2 separate regions of the Homo sapiens genome follow, and region 1 is linked to region 2. Evidence: fine-mapped expression QTL. A gene starts in region 2. The other region holds a variant in brackets. All regions are shown on one strand. Distances are between the middles of the regions.

Region 1 (8,343 bases), 140 kb before region 2:
TGCCTCATCCTCCCGAGCAGCTGCGATTACAGGCGCGAGCCACCATGCCCAGTTAATTTTGTATTTTCAGTAGAGAGAGGTTTCACCATATTGGCCAGGCTGCTTGCGAACTCCTGACCTCAAGTGCTCTGACTGCCTCAGCCTCCCAAAATGCTGGGATTACAGGCGTGGGCCACCACACCCAGCCTCCTCCTGTAATTCTTATTAGACCTATGTTGGATCTCCCACGATGTCTAAATATCCATTTTGCATTTTCTGTCTCTTTATCTCTGTCCTGTATTTTAGTCATTTCTTTCACCTCCCAGTTCACTATGTCTTTAGCTTTCTTTAATTTGCTATTTATTCTGTTCATTGTGTTTTAAAAGTCAGTGACTTTGTTCCAGCAGTGAAAAGCAAAAAACAAGTCAAAAGTCAATAACTGTATTTTTCATTTGTCTGAAGTTCTTTTTCAAACTTATCTGTTCTTTTTTCACAGTGTTATCTATGTCTTTCATCACTGTAAACAAACTTAGTTTCCACCTGATCAAACTGAAATAGCTGGAGATCTAATCCTGCTATGGGTTTATCTGTTGACTCCTTCATGTTAGACTGTTTCTTCCTATGTTTTGATACCGGAAGGAGCTTTATCTGTGGTTCCCGTGAGGTCTAGGCTGAAGTCGCATGCCTCCAAACAGCCTTGGTTTTGCTTCTGTCAGGTATCCAGGGGCCTAGGACCACTTTTTATATTAACTTTTTGACATGAGGGTTACAGGACAAGATGTATAATGTCAATATGAACCCTAAACCTGTAGTAAGGGAAGAGTTATAATTATATATTCTTAGAAGAGACTTTTCCCCCGTCCTTGTCATCCAGAGTCAGATAAGCTTCCTTCTTGTCGTCCAGTGCTGGTGAGCAGACTGTTTTTCTTATCCAACTTTTCACTGAGGCTGTAGATCTTTGAGGGTTTGACTTCATGGTGTGAGTAGGGAGGTACACAGGTCAAGGCCTCATCTCCTGTCCTACGTGGGCATAAAATTTCAAGTCTCTGGGATACAATACTAATACTGGCAATGTACTTCACTCTCTTATTCTCATGCTGCCATAGCATTAATGCTTATTCTTAAATGCTCTGGTTTTCAGTTTTGTCTTCATTTTTGGCCCTTTATTATCTTATGAACTCAGATATGTACACAATATGTACATTCAAAAGCTGAGGGTTCCCCCGAGCATTGTTTGATTTTTTTTTTTATTTGTTTGTTTTTGGAGACAGAGTCTTGCTGTATCCCCCAGGCTGGAGTGCAGTGGTGCAATCTCCGCCTTCTGGGTTCAAGCAATTCTCATGCCTCAGCCTCCTGAATAGCTGGGATTACAGGCGCCTACCACCATGCCCGGCTAATTTTTGTATTTTTAATAGAGACGAGGTTTTACCATGTTGGTCGGGCTGGTCTCGAACTCCTGACCTCAGGTGATCCGCACTCCTTGGCCTCCCAAAGGGCTGGGATTACAGGTGTGAGCCACTGTGCCCGGCCTGTTTGATGTTTTAAAGTAGAAGAATTTTCAGATAATCTAGTACATCATACTACTTGGAATGGAGGTTTGCATATATTTTATTATTTTTGTTTTTAAAATTTTAATACGTTTAAACTTATTTTTTAATATTACACGGCCCATGACACAACCCTCAGGAGACCCTGAGAACATGTTCCCCTGCATTATAGCAGTGCATATCCTGAGATACTTTTGTACTCCCTAACTAAGCTGGGTCACTAAAAATTCTTTTTCAGAGTATGCAGCAGTTAAGTCACAGTAACAATTCAGGTATAAAAAATGAAAGAATAGGTCGGGCGCTGTGGCTCACGCCTGTAATCCCAGCACTTTGGGAGGCCGAGGCGGGCAGATCACGAGGTCAGGAGATTGAGACCATCCTGGCTAACACGGTGAAACCCCGTCTCTACTAAAAAAAATACAAAAAATAAATTAGCCGGGTGTGGTGGTGGGCACCTGTAGTCCCAGCTACTCAGGAGGCTGAGGCAGGAGAATGGCGTGAACCCGGGAGGCGGAGGTTGCAGTGAGCCGAGATCGCGCCACTGCACTCCGCCTGCGCGACAGAGCGAGACTCCATCTCAAAAAAAAGAAAGAAAGAAAGAAAGAAAAGAATAGTAAACATGAATAAATTGGATATTCATGGGACAATTTCATAACTCATACGTTTCTTTTGGGAAGTAAAGATAATGAGAAGGATTCTAGGCAAAAATTAATTAATCTGTGTTCATTCAACAGACATTTGAGCATACATGCTCACTGTTCATGGCACAGAGATAAGATGCACTTATTTATTCTACCAAAAAAACTGCAAAAAGGTAACTTCAAAACTTACTTTCTAACTAGGCTTACTTATATTATTATTTGATTATTTATTAATCTGAAAGTTAATATTTATATATCTGGTTAATTTCTACATGGAGCGAGTTAACTCACCTGGGCACAACAGATAAATACAACTGAGATAGTCAATAAGAAAGCAGATGAAACTATTACATCAACTGATCGCTGAGGACCTCGACGCTGCAGGGTGTGGGTGGAAGGGAGAAAAGGAAACATTTTAAAATATATTTACTAATCAGCAGATAATTTCCATGGTTTCAATAAAGGTGTTGACTCATCACCATCAGTTGATCACAGCCCACAATGTTGAATATACCTAATTTGTTAGGCAAATTTTAATGATAGTGTTATGATTTCCTGAGGAATTGCAACAGAGTTAAAAGGGTATCTATATTTATATAGCATAAAATTATTGGTATAACTTTCAAATACTTCATTTTGTCAAACACAAGTCATTTATTCGACAAATATTTCTTAAGCACCTGCTTAGCACTAGATACTGTGCTGGGTGCTACAAATACAACAGAGAACAACACATGGTCCCTCTACCTTCACAGGAACTAGGAGGGGAGTGAGACATCAAGTTAATAATCACAGATATATGTGATAAATTGTGATGAGTGCTAAAAGGGAAAGACATAGGATGCTTTGAGATACTTGGCAGGGAGACTTCATTTAGATTTGAGGGTTAGGAGTGCGGGCCTGTGAAGATCTCCCTAAGGAAGTGATATTTACACCAAACTAAGGGGGAGGGGCAGGGGCATGATGGCACACAGCAGTGTTCTAGGTAGAAGGAAGGGCATGTGCAAGAACATAAAGCAGGACAGATCACAGCTCATGTAAAGAACGGAAGCAGTCTAAAATGGTTGGAATGTAGTGGACTAGGAAGGAGAGTGTTTCAAAATGAAACAAAAGACAGGTGAATAAGGGAGAACTTAGATCATAAAGGGCATTATAAACCTTGTTAAGATTTTGTGCTTTATCTTAAGAGAAATGAAGAACCTCCAAAAAGTTTTAAGAATATAGGGCCAAATATACATTTTTAAATGATCACTGGTGGCAGACTGAAGAAAGGAATGAAAAGAAGAAATGTGAATGCTGGAATGCCAGGTAAGAGGTAACTGAAGTAGCATGAGGTAGAAGATGATTGATGGTTTCAATGAGGGTGGCAGAAATGGAACAAAGAGAAGCAAATGGATTCAAGATATATTTTGGGAGCAGAAAAGATAGGAATTGGTGATAAATTGGAGACTAGAGATTAAACTAGGATAATTCCTAGGTCTGGGCTTACATTCCCTCACTGAAGTATAAGCTTACGTATGAGGGTAGGGGCTTTCATCTCATCAACAATGAATGGCACATGGTTAACATAAATAAGTGTTTACGGAATAAAATAATCAATGTACAAAAGAATGTAACACCTGCTTAGGGTTGACAATGGAGGAAATTTTGGACGAATTCAAGCGATCAGATTCATCCCTCCATACAACAGATATGTCATAGGAAAAAAATATCCATGCCAATTTGCAGCAGTGACACTAAGTAAGCTAAATTTAACAAGTTAAATTAATAAACAGAACAATGAATTTTTTAAATATAAGAGTAGAGAAATAGGGCATTATTATTATTAGGGCTTCTTTGATTATTATTTCAAAATATAAAGCATTAAAGATCTAGGTATGTCAGAGGATGATTGGTCTTCAGGTCAACTTTACTAAGATACAGACAGTGCTGTGAATAAATATCATTGGAATTTGCATGATTACTCCATATATAATGACATTCTACTGCTACTTAATGCAATAACAAGAAGTAATCCTCAGAAAAAAAGTGTTTTCCTAAAACCAATTTAGATGTTTCCCTCTTCCCTCCAGAGTTTTTATATCATACTTCCATAATTAGGAAAATTACTCAAAAGATTAAAGGAAAATAATGACATGAAAAGAATGACACTGAATTGCAAACTAATATTTTAAAATAGTAATAGGTCACTTCTGTGAGGAAACTCATTGGTTATTTTTTTTAAATTCTTTTTTAAGTAGTGGGCTCCCTCTGCTGGCTTGTGACAACCAGGCTAGTAGAAACAAAATCCCTAATCCAGTTTTTGAATGAGTAAAAGCTGGTTACTATACATCTAGAGACAAATATATATTGATAAAGAAACTGGAACTATCAGAAAGGGCCAGCATGTTAAAGCTACTTTTATCACTCCCATTCTACCTTAAGATAGGAACGGAGAGATAGCCACATTTTTATATTCTGTACTTTCTTCAACCGGAAATGAGGAACCTCAGATTTTCGAGCCCTCCTTGCAGATGTTAAATGTCCAAAGAGTTTTGCAAAAAGTAATCGCTAAAAAAGATTAAGATGAGGATTAATTTTCAAGTAGATTACCACAGAAAAACAAAATTAACAAAATATGAATTGTTAAGATTTTATTTGGTTAGGTACTATAAAAGCAAAATAAAAAATAATTAGGTAAAAATGATATAATGAAATAATAAAGTACTTCAGGAATACTTTTAATATTATGAAAACGATAAAATATTCTTATTCGGAAGTCTACATTATACCCACCTGTTTATAAGTTCTTTCTGCTACACAGAGCAAAAAAAAGAAAATCCACACAAGAGACAC[G/A]CGAACCACAAAACTTATTATAACCATAGAAAGAACTATGACATCTTCATTAGAACCAAATGCAATCACATAAAGTTCTGAAGCAGAATGTGCTGTGAGTTGTTCCAAGTCTGTAGCTTGAGAAAGTCGGAAAACAAATGGAGTTAAACCCAGTATGAGAGAGACTGCATTTCCAAAAATCTGGTATCCTATTCCTGGTATATGGCTGTTCACCTTGAGGGAGCCAGGGGAAGAGAGAGAAAAGAAAAATAAAATTATACCATAAATTTTATCTACAGTAGAATTATTTATAGCAATATGAAATCATTTGTTAAAATATACTCATTCTGAGTAATTTGAATCCCATTCAAGTTTGAGAGCCTACTACATATAAAATGTCATTAATTCTTCAGATCTTAAAAACAATTATCAGATCGCTAATTTACTAAGTAGATGGCAAAAGGACTGTCATCCAGATCTTGAAAAAAATTTATGTATTTCATTATTTCAAGTTAGAAATATTCATAAATACTGCAATATTAAAGAGAATGAGATCTCATATCCACTGAAATTCAGTTCATTGAAGAAAAAACTCAGCATTACACTTATTTCATACGTTTGTACATTTGTAACTTGAGGTTTTCTTTCTGTTTTCTTTTTTTTTTTTTTTTTTTGAGACAGGGTCTCACTCTATTGCCCAGGCTGGAGTACAGTGGCACAATAATGGGCTCAAGTGATCCCTCCCAACTCAGCATTCCTAGTAGCTGGGACTACAGGTATACACCACCGCCCCCAGCTAATTTTTTGGGTTTTGTAGAGATGTAAAGACAGGGTTTCACTATGTTGCTCAGGCTGGTCTTTAACTCCTGGGCTCAAGCGATCATCCCTCCTCTAGCTCCCAAAGTGTTGAGATTACAGGCATAAGCCAACACACCCAGCCGCTTACATTTCTCTTTGAATAGTCCAATATATAAATAAGTGTCTCCTTAAACTCTAAAAGCATTTTAGAAGAGAGATGATAGAAGGAAGAAGAAATTAAACAGAAAGGGAAAAAGGTGAGGGAATTATTTTAAAAAAGGAAATTAGATAATGGGACAATATAAAAGCTTCCAGTATGCTAGACTGGCAGAACTAAAAGAGATCTTAACTATCATGTAGCCAACTTTTTATAATATATATTAGATAAATGAGACCATTGTAAGTTAAGTGATCTGCCAATTCACAGGTAATTAAGTTACAGAGCACAAACTAGATCCAAGATTCCAGAGACTTCCCCGTCAACTGCTTTTAATTGCTCACACTGAGATATGTTATAGGGAGTATTATCAATTTCTAGACCCAGTTATTATAATTCCTGTCTTACACAAAGTGTGGAGAAGAGTTCAAGCACAATAATGCACCAAAGAAATTTAGAAATTGCAAGTTAAAAACAAGTCCAGAGAAATCAACACATTTTATTTTATTTTATTTTTATTTATTTATTTTTTGAGACGGAGTCTCGCTCTGTCGCCCAGGCTGGAGTGCAGTGGCGTGATCTTGGCTCACTGCAAGCTCCGCCTCCCAGGTTAATGCCATTCTCCTGCCTCAGCCTCCCGAGTAGCTGGGACTACAGGCGCCCGCCACCACGCCCGGCTAATTTTTTGTATTTTTAGTAGAGACAGGGTTTCACCACGCCTGGCTAATTTTTTTGTATTTTTAGTAGAGACGGGGTTTCACCATGTTAGCCAGGATGGTCTCGATCTCCTGACCTTGTGATCCGCCCGCCTCAGCCTCCCAAAGTGCTGGGATTACAGGCGTGAGCCACCGCGCCCGGCCAATCAACACATTTTAAAAATCAGTAATTATCTGAAAAAAGAAATAATAGAAAATAAAATTTTAATCCACAGTATTTCAATTAGACTTCTTTGAACTACTCAAGACTTTTACCACTATCTGCATTACTTCTATATATTTAAGTAGGTAAGCAAGTATGAATGCAAATTTACTAGTTTGATTTTTTCATGTCTTAAGTCCTATTAAACAAATGAACCAGTAAGAATGATACAGAAAAATAAGTCTTTTTAATTATTTTTTTATTTTTAAAGTTCTTGTAACAACAATCTCTAGTCCAAAGAAAAGTCTTTATTAACACCTGTATATATCTAACAAGCTCCTGAATTTCAAAAGAAAGAAAAAGATAAAAGAGAAAAATTATAGACCGTATCATCTATTCTTGGTCAGATAAGTGAAAACACTAGAAGATGAGAGTGGTTTGGTGACAAATCACTGTTTAAATTACAGACAGAAACAAATACACACATGTAACTTTTTTTTCAGGGTGAAGAAATGAGGTCAGAAGGTTACTAATATAATATTCCAGTAATTATCTTATATATAATTACTAAGTCTTACCCTTGAACTACAAGAATAAAATTTAAAAACTCACTCTGTTCATTATCATTCCACTGATTTCAAGTACAGACATGTCTGCTTTCTTACAATCATTACCTTCCCATACTATAGCACTTATTTTTTCTAATCCTGGGTGGGAACTATGGAGCCAGGGCAAATGACTCTATAAAAAAAAAAAAAATTAGTAAATATATAGATCACATTTAATAAATAAAATGTGTGTATATAAAGTTGTATATATATCTCTATATACACACACAATTTTAATGACACTAAAAATAAAAATTGGTGAATATATTTATCATGTTTTATAAATGGAATATATAGATCTGTGCACAGCTAATATATTTATACACACAACTCTAAGACACTAAAATTCTATCTTAAAATTAGTTAGCATATACACTGAACAGATATCATAAGAAGTTACATGGTTATGAAACTGTACAAGTTGAGAACTTTCTGTAACAAGTATTAGTCAACCTATGTTCAAAAATATACTAAAACATGTCAGCAAAAGTACTTAGTTGTCAGTCTACACAGCTGCAATATACTAATGCTAAAAGACAAATGGATATCAACTTGTTCATAGTAATCATTGTCCAACTTATGATCATTAAAAAAGAATATGACAGCTGAGATTTGAATCTCTTTGAAAGACCATATAGTGCTAGTCTTATCCCAAAAAAGACTCTTCCTTACATATTTAACGTTTAATATCTGATTTAGTTACTTTTCTGATATTTTAATCCAGCATTTCTCCAAAGGACCCATTTAACTTTTTTTTTTTTTCCAGATAAAGCAAATATTACAAAACTGAAGCACTCAGCCTCCTGAGTAGCTCGGACTACAGGCACCTGCCACCATGCCTGGCTAATTTTTTTATTTTTAGTAGAGACGGGGTTTCACCATGTTGGCCAGGCTGGTCTCTAACTCCTGACCTCAGGTGATCCACCGGCCTCTACCTCCCA
Region 2 (8,343 bases):
TTTTATTTGCTTGTTTGCCATTTTCTGGCTTCTCTTATTCTATCTGGAAATTGTTATTTTAAAACCTACACACACACACACACACACACACACACACACACACACGCCTGTTCAACTCAGTCAAATAACTGCAACAACCACTTTTTGAGCTAGTCTTAGAAATCAAGAATATGTCAAGTGCTTTACATACATTATCTCATTTAATTCTTAAAATCTCGCAAAGTAGGTAACTCCATTTAAAGAATAAATAAAACTGAACCTCAAAAATATTACATAATGAGTCCAATGTCACACAACCAGTGATGGCAGTATCAGGACTTGAACCTAGGTCTACAGAGCACCAAAACTTGTGCCACCTAATTTTCATAAATTTTCTGGTATCTGTAACAAATCCTATACAAAAGGTCTTACAAAAGTACTTTCATTCATGCAACAAATATGAATGCCTACATGTCTTTAAAATTTCTGTAGATATACTTTTAACAGCCCCTTTCTTGTACTGTTTTTGCAACTGGAAAGCTGCATACTATGCACTTTTCCCTTTACTTCCTCTCATTAAATGTCAAATTTAATCATGTTATGATTATTATCAGGTAGTGGTTCAGCCACAGCTATTTCCTGCCCCAGTTCCTGTTCAGTACCCAGAATAAAATCCAGCATATTTTCATTCCTAGTGCTCTAAAACTACCTGTTCCAGGAAGCAATCAGTTGTTCTCATCTGAAAACTCACTTCTATATTTTGTGTCACATTAGCAATTTTCATGAGAATAACAAAGTGGACTAAAAATGCAGTTTTCCTAAATGTCACTTAATATTTTCCACTTAGTCATATGATTCTGGTCATCAAGTGATGTTTCAGATTTGTAAATTTAACGTATTTATGGTTTGGTATTAATCTGAGAAGAAGATAGAAGCACGAGACTTTCTCAGATTTTCAAGGGCAGTCCCAATTTAAAACACACTGGCCAGGAGTGGTGGCTTATATCTGTAATCCCAGGACTTTGGTAGGCCAAGATGGGAAAATCACTTGAGGTCTCTAGCCTGGCCAACATAGCAAGACCCTGTATGTACAAAAAAATAAAAATTAAAACATTAGCTGGACACAGTGGTGCATGCCTGCAGGTCTAGCTACTCAGGAGGCTAAGGCAACAGGATTGCCTGAGCCTGGGAGTTCAAGGTTACAGTAATTACACTACTGTACTCCAACCTGGAAGACAGAATGAGACCCTGTCTCAAAATAAAAAAACTCTGTCCCACTATCATGTATCAAGTAGGGATTAAGAAAAGACAGTCAAAATATATGCAAAGGGGAGTTCACAATAATGACTCCATGTGGCTACAGGCTAGGTAAAGGGGTTAAGGGATGGCAACCATCATTTTGGAATTCTTCTTTGAGTCTTAATTTGAACTGGGAAAGTAAGTATTGGAAGGTGAATATTAAATAAACATGTAATAATGGACAAACTGCTGAGGTTTTCCTATAATTTTAGTATCTAAGTATGCAATTTCCAATTATCAAAATTGGGTAGTACTCACTTTGCCCAACCACATTTACATACCATTATCATTTAAAGCTGGCCTTCACACATACATTTTATACAAAGCTACAATTACTTACCATTCCCTAAACAATCCATATTTCTGTTCTGAGACTCTGCCTCTTCCTGTTCTGCATGGAATGCCCTCTTTCTCCACCTACAAACACCACCTTCAGACCTTTAAGGCTTCAGTGGTAGCTCCCCTGAAACCCAACTAGTTCTCTCTTAAAATTATTTATTGTTTCTTTTGTATTCACTGCTTTCTATGTGCCCGTACTTTATATATTTTATTTAAGGCTTAATGTCTTCTTTGAAGTATTGCCCTTTCCATTAAACAGATAAGGAAACTGATGCTAAAAGAGGTTTGGTGTTATGTTCAAAGTCACAAAGCCTGATAGGAATTCAAATCCAGACTGTCTATACTTTAACTGAATTCTTGTCTCAAGAATTATTGGGACCACAAGCATTTTGGATTTTGGATTTTGTAATATTTGCATATACATAAAGAGATATCTTAGAGATGGGACTCAAGTCTAAACACAAAATTCATTTATGTTTCATTTACACCTTATACAAATAGCCCAAAGGTAATTTTATATAACATTTTAAAATAATTCTGTGCATGAAGCTAAGTTTTGACTGTTTTTTTGTTTTGTTTTGTTTTTGTTTTTGAGACGGTGTCTTGCTCTGTCACCCAGGCCAAGTGCAGTGGTGCGATCTCGGCTCACTGCAACCTCCACCTCCTGGGTTCAAGCGATTCTCCTGTATCAGCCTCCCGAGTAGCTGGGACTACAGGTGCATACCACCACGCCCGGCTAATTTTTTTTGTATTTTTAGTAGAGACGGGGTTTCATATTGGTCAGGCTGGTCTTGAACTCCTGACCTCAGGTGATCCACCCGCCTTGGCCTCCCAAAGTGCTGGGATTACGGGCGTGAGCCACCGCACCCAGCTTGACTGTAACCTGTCACATGAAGTCAAGTGTCTTGTGGCATCATCTTGGCACTCAAAAGGTTCCAGATTTTAGAGCATTTCAGATTTTCAGTTTACAGATGCTCAATCTGTATATATTGTATTATCGTCATTTGTTCAAATATCTATTTCTCCCATCAAATGAATGCTCCTCAAACACAGAGAAGGTGACTCCATCCCTTTATCTTCAGCAAAATCCAACAGTGCCTATTATACAATGATCTCAAAGTGTTACTGTGTACAATAGTGGATTCAATTTACGGTTTTGCAGTGTTATTTTCCACTGAGTAGTCTCCTACTATAAAGTCTCCAAGAAGCCAATTTTATTGTGGTAATAAAGTATAATGGCTTGGAATGTAGGCTTTGGAATCAGACTGCTTAGGTGTGAATCTCACCTCTACTGACTCATTTGTGAAGAAATCTTGAACAAATTAGTTAAACTAAGTCTTGGTTTGCTCATCTATAAAATGACAGTAATCAGTACCCATCTCACAGGACTAAAATGATTAAATAATATACAAGTAGTCCAACTATTTTCGAGTTTCATTTTATCCACATGACACCCTAAATTCTCTTCAGTTTAGTGAAGGTTTTTTTCATTACATATTCCTTGCAATTTTGCATTAAATGGACCAGCCAAAAAAAGTTCATGGTTTAAAAATTGGGTGGGCCACCTTCTTCATTTTTAGGGCCAACTGTCCAGTGCCAGTTTGGGCTCAAAAAAAGTTTACTCTTGGAGGCTTGACTATCTATGCAAGAGTGCCCCCATTGTATACTATACTTGTTTACTCACCACATTTTCATGCTCCACCAGAAAGTGGTCAAAATTGGAACACGAAAACTCTCCACCTCACTAACACCTAACTTAAAACTATCAGATGCATTCAGACAGCCAGTCTGTGTGGGAGGCAGGCTATTTCTGGGGCAAAAATATTTCCTGGAACCACTGTTTCTGGCCCCAGACATGGCTCATTCTCCGCAGACCTCCAGATTCCTCTCCTCTACGTTATGGAGGTGGAGCCACTACAACTGATAACGCATATCCATTTCCTTCTCTTAAAATTTGCAGTCCATACACCATATCCAAGTTAGGATTTCAAATTGTTATACTGTTTTGTGACTCTTTAGGCTAAAGTGTGCAGTTTCCAGACTTTCAGAATTCCCCTTCCAATATTAAAAATATGGTGAAAAAAGCCCAGTTTGAAAGAAAATAAACTTTACAAAAATACCTGAAAACAAGATCAAATACTAAGTCTCTTGCCAAAGTCTTGGAGAAAAAAAAAATGAAAGAAACGTTTAAAAATGGCAAAAGCTAACCAAAAACCTTAAGATTAAAGTATCACACCTGAAAAGTAGTCTCAAAGCAAGGAGGATATACTATTAACAAAGAAAGCAACCGAAAACTACAAAATATTTAATATTCACCATGAATTTCAAAATTACTTGGCATGTAAAGTACACACTGAGATTAATAAATTGTTCCAGATTCTGCACTGCCCAGGTTAGTATAAGGCAGTTCCTTGTTTTCGCCACGCTAAAAATAAGAAGGGTGACAGATTAGTGACAGAATGATCCCTGAAGTTACACAAGGAGGTGCTGAGTTAGAAAGCCATGACTCGAAGGACAATACCAGAATGCTGGCTGTCAACACTGGGCAGATAAAAATAAGAAAAGCTGAAGCATGCTGATGGAGCACGGTATTGTTTCCAGACGGGAACTATCCCTTAAGGCCCATGCCTTAAGCACCCACTCCGCCGTGTTGGGATCAGAAAACTCGACTGCCGCCTGCTCAGAGGGGGCAGGGCAGCGACCCTCCTTCCACCTCCTCCAGCGCGCGAGCCGCCGCCCCCTCCCGAGCCCGCTCCTCCGGCCGCTAGCTGACATCTCCCCGCCAGCCGGGCTAGCCACCCGAGACCCCTGAACGCCCTTCCAGGACCCGACGACCCCTCAGCACAGCGCCAAGGGAAGGAAGCAAAGGACAGGGGCCTGGAAGCGGGGCCCGAGGGGCGGGTGGCGCGCTGGGCTTCGGCCCGTCACCATCAAGACTTGAGGACCGCGCGAGCTCGGGAGGAAGGCGGCTGAGCCTCCGCCACCGGCCGACTGATGAGAAGGGGTCGCGGCTGACCCCGGCCCTCAGGTACGGGAGACTGCCGGGAAAGTCGCCGGCGACGGAGGGCGACGCGTTGGCCCCGGAGCCCCCACCTCCATCCCGACGACCGCTCTCCTCCCTCGTCCCGATCCATCCTCGAAATTCTGTCAGAACTCGACGACCTCCACACTGCCCACCCGAGCGCGGAGGTGATGCCGCTCTTACCGTAGGAGCGAGCGCCGCGCCGCTAGGAGGCGGCTGAGGTGCGCGCGGGAGACTCCGAAGCTAGCGCCGCCGCCAACAGAGCCCAAGGAGCCACAACGAGGCTGCCCGCGGGCGCGCTGCCTCCAGAGGGTTGCCCCACCCCCTCTCCCGCAGGATTTTGCGCCGGAGCCTGCAGTCACTGCGCGCGGGCAGGGAGGATGGGAGGAGGGGCGGGGCGTCCCGAGAGGGCGGAGCTGAGCGCCGGCTGCTCTGATTAACATCTGTGGGCCCAATGGGAGCACGGAAACTCCAGGCTGATCTTGGACTGACTTCCCTACTAACCCGTGACAGTAGAGAGGCGGGACCAATGGGTCTTTTTATTGCCGCCTTTCTGTCGAACCCGAAAGTAAGGAAAGGTCGGTTGGTTTGCACTGGCGGACAAATGGTCCAATTACCGCGGAAAAGGGACCTCTGAATCCAGATTGGCGTCCTCTCTACCTATAGGGTAGGCTCAGGGGCGGTGAGAACCAGCCCCGGATGTGGGCGCGGCACTGAGGTAGAACTGAGAGATCCTCTACCGCAGTCGTTTGAGGAGGCGGAACTGAAGTTTTTTCTTAATTATCATGTGACGGGTTCTGGATTTAATGGGGGGAAAAGGGCGGAAAAGGACAAGGATCCAAACTGGCGAATTTGCTGATCTTCGCGTCCCTCTCCGCTTTCCGGCCGGCAGCGCTGCCAGGTGAGTCTGGGGCTCTGCCCTAGCCCGCACCGTACGCCGGCGCTGGTCTCCTGATGCTTCCGTGGGCTGTGCGGCCGACCCTCAACCCATCACACAGCCAGCCCCAAACGCGCACACGCCTGCTTGGCTCCAGGGCTTCTGTGCGCATCCAGCAGGAACCGTGTTAAACTCCAGCATGTGCTGGGCTTACAGCCCATGAAAGGGGAGCGTCCCGGTGGGGCGCCGCGAGCCGACTGTCGGTGTTTGCAGAAGGGCAAGTATAGTTTAGGAGCGTCCTGAAGTTCCAGGGGCAAATAGGCCCCCAGATGAGCTAAGTTGTAAGCAGAACGCTGTTCCTTTGGCCAAGGCTGTTGCTGCACGGGCTTTTCAAAAGCGACTCATTATGAAGAAGAATAAATATGTGGGCTCATGAAGCAAAATTATCTTTGGGATGAGGCAGGTTCACTTGGTAGACTACTGGCAGTGGCGAGAGAAGGGAAATGGGGGCTGATACCCAGCCGTGGGCTATGTGGGTGGGGCTCTATATATGTCCATACAGGGGTAACTCCGAAGGTTTTAAAAATGAGTAAGGAATCATTAACAAATATTTAACTGTCTTCCTAGTGCCAGAAATAACCACCTTAAATGGGAAACATTTTAGTTGAGCACATTTTTGGAGTACGCACCTCCCCCTTTCTTGTGGAGAGAATAGTAGGAAACATAACGACTGCTCAAATTGATGAAGACGTAAATGTAAAACTGGGATCGTATGTCATCGTTGTAGCTCAGCATACAGGCGTACAATCCTTCAATCGTCATTTAAGTATCAGCAGTGCTTCCCCATTGAGGGTATTTCCGTGCAAGAACATAACAGAATTTTGTTGCATCCCACATTATAAATCTTGTAGGCACAATAAGATTGTTACTTGCATCCTTTCACCTCCAGCCCTAAAGCACCTGTGGTAAGTACAGCCAAATGTAAGAAAAAAATGAAGCTTGTCTTATCCGATAGCAGATGGAACAGTTAGGTTTAAGCAAGTGTATAATCATAAACCGTTTTTCAGAGGTTCACAAAAACGGCCTGATAGATTGGAGGTGGGGATTGTGCAATTTACGGGATGAAATCCATCCATGGTTATTAATCAACACACACCCCTCCAACCCTGCTTCCAAATTCAGTCCCACATCCCACTCTATGGCAGCCTCTGGCCGGGAAAGGAAACCAACACAGAAAAATGCCTCCTTAGAAGCAAAATTACTGCAGTATGAAGCCTTTGCCAATTAAGTAAACAAGTTTAAGTGCCACTAGATGGGTATAAGGGAAAAGAGGTGAGTTAGGAGACTAATACTTAACTGTTGAAATAGAACAGATGTGTCCTCTTGCACTGTGATAGCCACCCACTATTTAAAGTAGTAGAGATGTTGCACAGTACATCAAAGTTAGTTCTAAAATATAATTGAGCACGCTAATCTAGGGTATTTGGCTCAATTAGCCAGTTCCTTCACCTTTTCCCTGTTATCTTCCTGCATCTTTCCTCCTACCACGCATGCTTTTGTTCCTATCCCTAGCACCTTCTGATCTTTTTCTCTTTCCATCAAGTATCCTCTCTCATCTTCAGTGTCATTCCCCATTGGCTTATTTCTGTTTATAGTCATAAATTCTTCCTTTCCTGAAAATTTCTTCTTTCAGTTTCATATACCCTATCTTTCATTTTTCTCTTCTCCAAATGCCTCAAAGGAATAAAATGTTCTCAATTGTTTCCATTTCTTGGTCTTCTGTTAACTCCTTACCCAGCTGCATGCAGTCTGGCTTCTGATTTCCCATTCTACTTATCCTTTTTCCAAGTGGCCATAAAGGTTGGTATAAAAAACTTAAGTAGAGGAACATATCATAAACCTATATGTGAAGATTAAATATAATAAATGCTATCCCAAGCTAAGTTTTATGCATTCATAATCAAAATTCTAGGTTTTCAAGAATCAGCAAATTTAGCATTGAAAAACTGTAAGGGCAAAATAGAAAATATTCTAGAAAAGAGGCCGGCGTGGTGGCTCAAACCTGTAATCCCAACACTTTGGGAGGCTGAGGTGGGTGGATCACTTGAGGTCAGGAGTTCGAGATCAGCCTGGCCAACATGGTGAAACCCCATCTCTACTAAAAATACAAAAACTAGCTGGGCGTGGTGGCGCACACTTGTAATCCCAGCTACTTGGGAAACTTAAGTGGGAGGATCACTTGAACCCGAGAGGCAGAGGCTGCAGTGACCTGAGATCGTGCCACTGCACTCCAACCTGAGTGACAAGAGTGAGACTCCGTCTCAAAAAAAAAAAAAATTCTAGAAAAGAGAACAACGAGTAGATACTAGGCCTTCCAGATATTAATACATTCCTAGAGCAACACTAAGTCATATAGTATTAGTGCAAAAGAGAAACATATAGATCAATGAGGCAGAATAGTGATATAAGAAATAGCCCCCAAAATTTAGCATCTAATAATCACAAAACATCAAAAGTTTATTAGGTGGTCCTGATTATTGAATGGATAACAAGTAGCTTAAAAAAATACATATATACACCACCAATCAGTGAGACTATTGTTAAAAGGAAAAAAACTATTATACCAAGAAAGATATTTGTAAGAATTTTTATGAGAAAATAAGTGAGAATTTAAGAATATGTTTCAAATTATATGAAAATCCAGTGTTATCAGTGCCTTTTATATTATATAGCCCAACAACCTCTTTACAATCTTTTTTTTTTAGACAGTGGTCTCACTCCCATCGCCCAGGTTGGAGTGCAGTGTGCAACGGCTCACTGCAGCCTC

The links.
Region 1: its variant is fine-mapped to the expression of PHTF2 in whole blood (TOPMed, PIP 0.92).

Annotation. Positions count from the first base shown.
Region 1 is chr7:77,936,902-77,945,244 of GRCh38, reverse strand. It overlaps PHTF2 (putative homeodomain transcription factor 2), which reads right to left. Exons shown (of 19, transcript NM_001395272.1): 12 at 7,407-7,535; 13 at 4,943-5,215; 14 at 4,586-4,717; 15 at 2,459-2,545. Among named protein-coding and RNA genes, the nearest start is that of DDX3ILA1, 49 kb to the left of the region's middle. The variant G/A (reference allele first, on the strand shown) is at 5,003.
Region 2 is chr7:77,795,451-77,803,793 of GRCh38, reverse strand. PHTF2 (putative homeodomain transcription factor 2) reads right to left here and starts at 5,021. Exons shown (of 19, transcript NM_001395272.1): 1 at 4,823-5,021. It overlaps TMEM60 (transmembrane protein 60), which reads left to right and starts at 5,360. Exons shown (of 2, transcript NM_032936.4): 1 at 5,360-5,540. RefSeq lists a silencer at 4,941-5,080 and an enhancer at 5,491-5,600.